3 separate regions of the Homo sapiens genome follow, and all the other regions are linked to region 3. Evidence: fine-mapped expression QTL. A gene starts in region 3. Each other region holds a variant in brackets. All regions are shown on one strand. Distances are from middle to middle. Region 1 overlaps GLG1 (golgi glycoprotein 1). Region 2 overlaps GLG1 (golgi glycoprotein 1). Region 3 holds the start of GLG1 (golgi glycoprotein 1).

What was found. PIP is the estimated chance that this variant, and not a neighbour inherited with it, causes the effect.
Region 1: its variant is the best candidate, but not a certain one, in a credible set for the expression of GLG1 in whole blood (GTEx, PIP 0.61).
Region 2: its variant is the best candidate, but not a certain one, in a credible set for the expression of GLG1 in whole blood (INTERVAL, PIP 0.50).

The regions. Positions count from the first base shown.
Region 1 is chr16:74,561,335-74,564,018 of GRCh38, reverse strand. The region is part of intron 1 of GLG1 (golgi glycoprotein 1); the gene reads left to right. Among named protein-coding and RNA genes, the nearest start is that of GLG1, 44 kb to the left of the region's middle. The variant G/T (reference allele first, on the strand shown) is at 1,299.
Region 2 is chr16:74,575,629-74,578,312 of GRCh38, reverse strand. All of the region lies in intron 1 of GLG1 (golgi glycoprotein 1), which reads left to right. Among named protein-coding and RNA genes, the nearest start is that of GLG1, 30 kb to the left of the region's middle. The variant A/G (reference allele first, on the strand shown) is at 1,084.
Region 3 is chr16:74,605,518-74,608,201 of GRCh38, reverse strand. It overlaps GLG1 (golgi glycoprotein 1), which reads left to right and starts at 1,088. Exons shown (of 26, transcript NM_001145667.2): 1 at 1,088-1,545. The coding sequence starts at 1,108. RefSeq lists silencers at 918-1,107, 1,338-1,517.

The sequences.
Region 1 (2,684 bases), 44 kb after region 3:
CCCAGAAGGTTGAGGCTAAATGAGTCATGATTGAGCCACTGCAGTCCGGCCTGGGTGACAGAGCAAAAACCTGTCTCAAAGAATAAAAATAAAAGTGTCAGCAACTTCACAGATACTTCCCTGATTAGCCAGTAGGCAACCTTGAGCAATTCTGTTATCCAGTAGACCTTTAGCAAGATAATTTAAAGAAGTCTGTTTTGTAACCATAGCCTTTGCAGTAGAATCTGCTATGGAGCATATCATGAGGAACAAATTTCTTTTTTTTTTCTTTTTCTTTCTTTTTTTTTTTTTTGAGACAGGGTCTCACTCTGTTGCGCAGGCTGGAGAATAGTGGCGTGATCTCGGCTCCCTGCAACCTCTGCCTCCTGGGTTCAAGCAGTTCTCCCACCTCAGCCTCGCAAATAGCTGGGACTACAGGCACACGCCACCACGCCCCGCTAATTTTTGTGTTTCTGCTAGAGACAGAGTTCCCATTTTGACCAGGCTGGTCTTGAACTCCTGACCTCAAGTGATCTGCCCACCTCAGCCTCCCAAAGTGCTTGGATTACAGGCATGAGCCACTGCGTCCAGCCCATGAGGGACAAATTTCTAGACACTGTATCGTTTACTCCAAACTCTGGAAAAAGTGACCTAACAATGAAGGCCATTCAGAATGATGAAGGCTTCCAAGCACTAGTGTTCTTTTTCACCTCTGATGTAGGTTAAAAGGAGTGGACCAGTGTTCTCTTTCTGACAGAACCATTAAAATTCCTAACCCACATTGGACTGTCATCTTTCATCCATTAAGACATAATGCTGCCTATGGATAAGGTTGGCTGTAAAAGTTTTCACAAATAAAAGTGTGCCCCATTGGTGCACCATAAGACCCCTTTTCTGTTGTTCATAGAGGCATAAACAAGGAAAACATTGAGAGGTAAGAGTCTCATGATGACAGAGAAGTTTTGATCCATGCTTTTGGGAAAGCTGTCCATGTCTAGGGTGCCATCTGCTTCTGGGGGAAAACCTTTTCTAACTGGTTAGCTTTACGTTAAGATTTCCAATGGGTGTACAATTCCAAGTCTGGAGGGGCCCTCCTGCATTGTGATATCAATTGACCCAGTGTTTGAGGCCCCAGAGTTTTGCTTCATTGTGGGTAACAAGGGCAGTGTTTTCCTGACGTCATTTCCAGAAGAACCAACCTCCAGGTTCTAGATTGTGAAGGATTTGAATGTCCTCAGTGGGTGGGTCATGAAAAGCTTCCTTTACTGCCAGCACGGTAGCTCATGCCTGTAATCTCTACACTTTGGGAGGCCGAGGTG[G/T]GCGAATCACTGGAGGTCAGGTCTCTGGAACCCAGGAGTTCAAGACCAGCCTGACCAACATGGTGAAACCCCATCTCTACTAAAAATACAAAAATTAGCTGGGTGTGGTGGCGCATGCCTGTAATCCCAGCTGCTTGGGAGGCTGAGGCACAAGAATTGCTTGAACCCGGGAGGTGGAGGTTGCAGAGAGCTGAGATCACACCACTGCTCTCCAGCCTGGGCAACAGAGTGAGACCATCTACAGAAAATAAAAAAAAGAAAAGCTTCCTTTAGCTGGTGAAAATACACTTTGGTATAATGCATTAAAGGCTTGCAGCATTTATTCATATCAGAGTTTGGGAGAGGAAGATACATGAGGTTCTATTATTAGTGGCATAGGCCTTCCAGTGACTATTTCATAATGAGTCAACTTATATTTTCTACTGGAAGCAGATGAGGTTGTCATCAATCTGCAATACCTTTGACCAAGGCAACCAGTCAATTCAGTTAGCTTCACCTAAAGCTGTTGTGTCTGTAATACCTTACTTAACTGTTTACAACTTGTCCAGTGAAACAAGTACCACTATCACTGGAGATTTCTCCAGGAATGCCCCGTGAGGGAAACACATTTTCTGACAACCTTTTAGCTACTGTTATAGCATCAGCCTTCTTGCATGAGAAAGCTTTTACCAGAAAACGTGTTGAAAATGACAGTTGAATGAAATTCCTCTATAAGTGTTCCAATGACCCATCAGGTAGCTGAAGTTTTAATTATCTTCCCAGGTTGTAGGTTTGATAAGCCAAACCTTGGTCATAAACCATTTTTAGCGATTTAGAGCAGTCACCACACCAATGTATATGTTTTCTATTTGGATCATTTTCTGTCTTCCATGATGAGTCATGGAGTGCAGAGCTTTTAATAATGGAAGATTTACGGATTCAGGAAGGACCAGGTGGCTGTGCAGGATCTCTGTGATTCCATGCTTAACATTGCATTTATAGCCTGTTAAATACCAATTTTGTATCTCCAATTCAGGTGCATAGCACTGTTCATTAAATGGGTTATCATAGGTAATTTGACTTGGAACATAGAGTTCATTCAAGTTGCATATCTTAACAGTTTTAGTACTGGCTGATTTAGCATGAAAATCTGGCAGAGTATTTTTCTTAGTATTCAGTTAATTTTTGTCCTGCTTGGGTTAGCAGTTTTATAAACCAGTCTCTTTATTAAAGTTCTGGGAATTCTTACCCAGTCCAAATTAGATGAGCCTAAAGTTATCAGAAACTTGTATTCAGTAGTGCTTATTAGGGTCCTTTCCATTACTTTCCATGAACGTTCTTGAAGACATAATGCTCTAGGATTTTACTTGGTTGTAAAGAGCTTAAAGAAAATGCATCCGTATAAAG
Region 2 (2,684 bases), 30 kb after region 3:
GCAGTAGCTGCAGGAGATGGCATTAGTTGGCTGAGTTCTACAAAAAGCTTTTATCTACTTTAATGAGATCAATTTTCGTCCATTTCCTTCTTGTTTCAGTCTTATTCATCAGTCATGAGTCATCACATACTCATAATAAACAGTTTTTCAAAAAGAGATCAAATGTATTGCAACTTAGGTCTAATTAAACAAAAACAAACAAAATACCTCAGACAACCAAAATTGTGTCTTACTCATTCTTTTAGTTTTAACAGAGAACAAGGAGCAAATCCAAATGATTGCTGTTAGAATGGGTTTTGTTTTTGAGAGACAAGGTCTTTCTCTACTGTCCAGGCTGGTCTTGAACTCCTGGCCTCAAGTAATCCTCCTACCTTGGCCTCCCAGAGTGCTGGGATTACAGGCATGAGCCACTGCACACTTTTAATCCCAGCACTTTGGGAGGCCAAGGTGGAAGAATCACTTGAGCTCAGGAATTTGAGATCAGCCCAAGTAACATACTGAAACCTCATCTCTACAAAAAATAAAAATAAAATTAACCGGTCATGGTGGCTGGTAGTGCCTGTGGTCCCAGTTACTCAGGAGGCTGAAGCAGGATTGCTTGAGCTCAAGAGATCAAGCTTGCAGTGAACCATGATGATGCCACTACCCTCCATCCTGGGTGACAGAATGAGACAATGTCTCCAAAAAAATAAAAATAAAAAGAATGTTTTCGTGTGAAGTCAGAATACTTACCCCTTCCTGTTTTATAGTTTTTCATTATTGTATTTGGGATTCTTTTTTTTTTTTTTTTGAGATGGAGTTTCACTCTTGTTTCTCAGGGTGGAGTGCAATGGTGCCATTGCTGTTCACTGCACTTTCTGCCTCCTGAGTTCAAGCGATTCTCCTGTCTCAGCCTCCCGAGTAGCTGGGATTACAGGTGCCTGCCACCACACCTGGCTTATTATTGTATTTTTAGTAGAGATGGGGTTTCACCATGTTGACCAGCCTGATCTCGAACTCCTGACCTTGGGTGATCCACCCGCCGTGGCCTCCCAAAGTGCTGGGATTACAGGCAGGAGCCACCACACCCAGTCCTCAATGTCT[A/G]TTTTTTAAAATAAGTGGGCTTACACCTGTATTTGCAGCACTTTGGGAGGCCAAGGTGGGAGGATCTCTTGAGCCCAGGAGTTTGAGACCAGCCTAGGCAACATGGAGAGACTCCTGTTTCTACCAGAAAATTAAAAACAATTAGCCAGGCATGGTGGCATGCACCTATGGTGCTAGTTGCCTGGAAGGCTGAGGCAAGAGGATTGTTTGAGCCCAAGAAGTTGAGGCTGCAGTGAGCTATGTTCATGCCACTGGGAGACTGACAGAGTGACATTCACCCTGCCTCTAAAAAAAAAAAAAAAAAATTAGGAGTGGTTAGAATTTATATGCAGGGTACATGGTTTCTTCCAAGAGGTAAAAATAAAAATATTTCTTCAGCTACTCAATTCAGTATCTCATTCATGAGTAAAGAAAGTATACTCAAAGATTATATTTAAAATGAAAACAATAAAAATTTTTTCTTCAGCAGGCTTCATTATTTTTTTGTTTAGCAATTTTTGTACCTTAAAAAAGAATAGATTTGTTCTCTAATTTCTCCAGCAACCTTATTTTATGAAGCACTCATTTATGCCCCATTTATATCTCAGACCAGAGGTGGGCAAACTGTAGTCCAAGGGACAGATCCAGCCCCACAACCTGTTTTAGTATGGCTCTGGAGTTAAGAATGGTTTTTATAATTTTAAAAGGTTATTAAGGGGATGCCATAGAGACCACAAGAGATTGTATGTGTTCTGCAAAGCCTAAAATAAGTATGGTATGCCTCTTTACTGAAAAAATTTGCTGACACGTGTCTTAGACTATAATATATAATGTACATGCAACTCATTTAAAATGGTCTATGATCCATCCAAATCATGGTGTCATTTTAAGTTAGAAAAATGTTTGGCTGTATTCTCTTTATATGTCTTGCATTTTTATAGAAATTCACGGAATTTGTCAGTCTTTAATAGTTGGTGTGGAGTTTTATTAACCAGGGCCAAATGTGTATGTATGACACCACAGACTTAAAATAGTTTGAACTTTTTTTTTTTTTGAGAAGGAGTCTCGCTCTGTCGCGCAGACTGGAGTGCAGTGGTGCTATCTCAGCTCACCGCCGCCTTCACCTCCCGGGTTCAAGCAGTTCTGCCTCAGCCTCCTGAGTAGCTGGGATTACAGGCAACCTCTACCATGCCTGGCTAATTTTTGTATGTTTAGTAGAGACAGGGTTTCACCACATTGGCCAGACTGGTGTCAAACTCTTGACCTCAGGTGATCTGCCACCTTGGCCTCCCAAAGTGCTGGGATTACTGGCGTGAACCACCGCGCCTGGCTAGTTTGGAATTTTGAGAGAGAGAGAGAGAGCATGAGAGCACACTGTGCTTGTATGCTTACTGTTGGTTGTATATGGTTTCGTGATACTGCTTTTTTGTTGGTGATGAATTTGAATATATTGCCACTTCTCTATGAAATCAATATTTTCTCATTGATATCTATATTTACAGCATAAAAATAAAGAGCGAGCTACTGCGGAAGCTGAGGCAGGAGAATTGCTTGAATCCGGGAGGCAGAGGTTGCAGTGAGCTGAGATTGTGCCACTGCACTCCAGCCTGGGCGACAGAGGG
Region 3 (2,684 bases):
ATGTGCATGGACAGAGTGGGATGAAAGTGCGCCAGGGTGGTGGGAAGCCCCAGGGATTCTGGTGGCTAGCCTAGCTGTCTACAGGATGGCAGAGTTCCTCTTGGGCAGCTCATTTAATCCCTCCACGCAGAACTGTTAACATCTCTGTGCCATTCTTCAGTTAAATGAGAACCTAACGCAGGCCTGATGCATGGCTCAGATTACACAGCGGATGTGAAGAGGCTTTGGGAACATATCCTCTCTCCTAAGGACAGGGAGGGGATGCTAGTGTGGGGTGCCTGCGGTGTTGCATGCAGGTCAATGAGAACAGTTACCGACACACAGACTTAACCCGAGTCCTCAAAGATGTGTTTTATTATTATTTTTTCATCCTTTAAACATGAATCTAAATGCTGGCTTAAAATCAGGATTCATGCATAAACGGCTTCCCAGTTTATTAACAATACTGGCTGTGACTTTTTGAGTTCAGTGTTGTGGGCCAGGCACTTAAATTATTATTTCGAATCTTGCCAATGGTACTTTACATTTGAGCTCTTGCGTACCCTGCCAGAGCAAGGATTATAACCTTAATTTTTTTTCTTACCCCAGAACTTATGCTCTTAACCCTATTCAATGCTGTCTCTCTCTTTGGCTAAGAAAGACTTCTGAGGCAGATGGAAGGAAGGAAGGAAGGAGGGAGCGATACAAGGAGAGGCTTTCCGATTCCGTAATACACCTGGTTGTGCAAAGTTCACCTCTACATATAAAGTTTTTGTTTTCCAAGTCATTGAACCGGCGACATATTCTACCGGCCATTTTGGTTGTGGCAACCCCAATTCCCTTGATTTTTTTTTTTGTGACAGCAAATGGAATTAGAGTAGGCCGCCCTGCCCGGGCTTTTTAAGAAACCCCAGCAACCCCCCCGGGTAAGGAGCGCCGCTCTCCCGCCCGCCGGTCCAGGGTGTGTGCGGTTTCCAGCACGGCCTCCTCCTTCGCCCCACTCTGGGTTCGCGGGTCGGCGCCGGCGGGGCGGGGCTCGGCAGGGCCACGCTGCCACGCCCAGCGTCTCCACCCCCTCATTTAAATACGCGGCGCCGGCGAGTGCGTCGAGCTCGCCGCGGACTCAAGATGGCGGCGTGTGGACGTGTACGGAGGATGTTCCGCTTGTCGGCGGCGCTGCATCTGCTGCTGCTATTCGCGGCCGGGGCCGAGAAACTCCCCGGCCAGGGCGTCCACAGCCAGGGCCAGGGTCCCGGGGCCAACTTTGTGTCCTTCGTAGGGCAGGCCGGAGGCGGCGGCCCGGCGGGTCAGCAGCTGCCCCAGCTGCCTCAGTCATCGCAGCTTCAGCAGCAACAGCAGCAGCAGCAACAGCAACAGCAGCCTCAGCCGCCGCAGCCGCCTTTCCCGGCGGGTGGGCCTCCGGCCCGGCGGGGAGGAGCGGGGGCTGGTGGGGGCTGGAAGCTGGCGGAGGAAGAGTCCTGCAGGGAGGACGTGACCCGCGTGTGCCCTAAGCACACCTGGAGCAACAACCTGGCGGTGCTCGAGTGCCTGCAGGATGTGAGGGAGGTGAGGAGGTGGGACGAAGCCGGGAGGGCCAGGCCTGGTGCGGGCCCGAGGGTGTTGCCGGCCTTGGAAGCCGCTGACGCCGGTCGGCTGCTTTCCTTGCTTCCTCTGTGCTGCACTCGCTCCTTCCCTCTTTGCTCCTCACTCCCAGGCGCTTTCAGGGAAAAGGATACCACTCCCACTCCTTCTTTCCCCCGCCCTTATTTCCCTCCCTGTTGCCGGGGTCTGGGACGAAAACCTGGGCTCCTGGCCGCAATCCGCCGAGGCCCAGAGCGTGTCTGTTCGCTCCTGTCTTTTGTGTGATGCTCTATGCAGAGTGTCTCCTCGCCGAAGATCAGTTTAGGATTTTGCCATCAGTTTCGACTAGGACAATTTGTGGCAAGCCATTTAAACATAAAAAAATGCCTGGCGTACTTAGGCTGTAAAGAATGATCTGTTTATTAGCAGTAGATGTAATTCGCAAATCCATATTTTTGGTGCTGAAATTAATGTATGCTTTGTTTTCTTCACTTCCTTTGGTCAGTTGTATTGAACCCCATGTTTAAGCTGTTAACTCCCAGTGACTTGGCGCCCCAAAGCTTGAAAAGTTGGGGAAGCGTTTGAAGCTGTGTTTGTGACTGGGTTATGGGATCTTGCCTTTCTGAGGTCTGAATGTGATTTTAACAGTATCTCTTAATGAAATCTACATTTGTCGTTGCTTGGTGTGATTCAGTTGAGTGACATTGATAATTTATAATCAAGTGACATTGATAATTTATAATCTAGGTTTAATGCTGCAGACCATAATGACAATTCTCAAAGTTTGGGAGCAAATCTGACAGTAGTAACTTTTTCCAGAGGTGTAGGTATATAAAATTAGCCCTAAAGGTGGACAAATAGAATGAAGCTACCACTTGATACTGTTTTTGGTTTTTTTTTTAAATATCAGATTTGTTTAAGGCGTTCAAGCTATAGCAAGACCACTTGCTTGTAGAAATTTGCTTCTCTTGGCATTTCCCCCCTTCATCTCGTGTTCTAGTATTCTATACAAAAGCAATTCAGATAGAGGAAAAGACATACATAAGCAGGAGACAGAAAGAAAGGAAGTTTCCAGAGCCCCTAGAAATGTGAGGCCTTACCTGACTTCTCATCTTCAGCTTAAC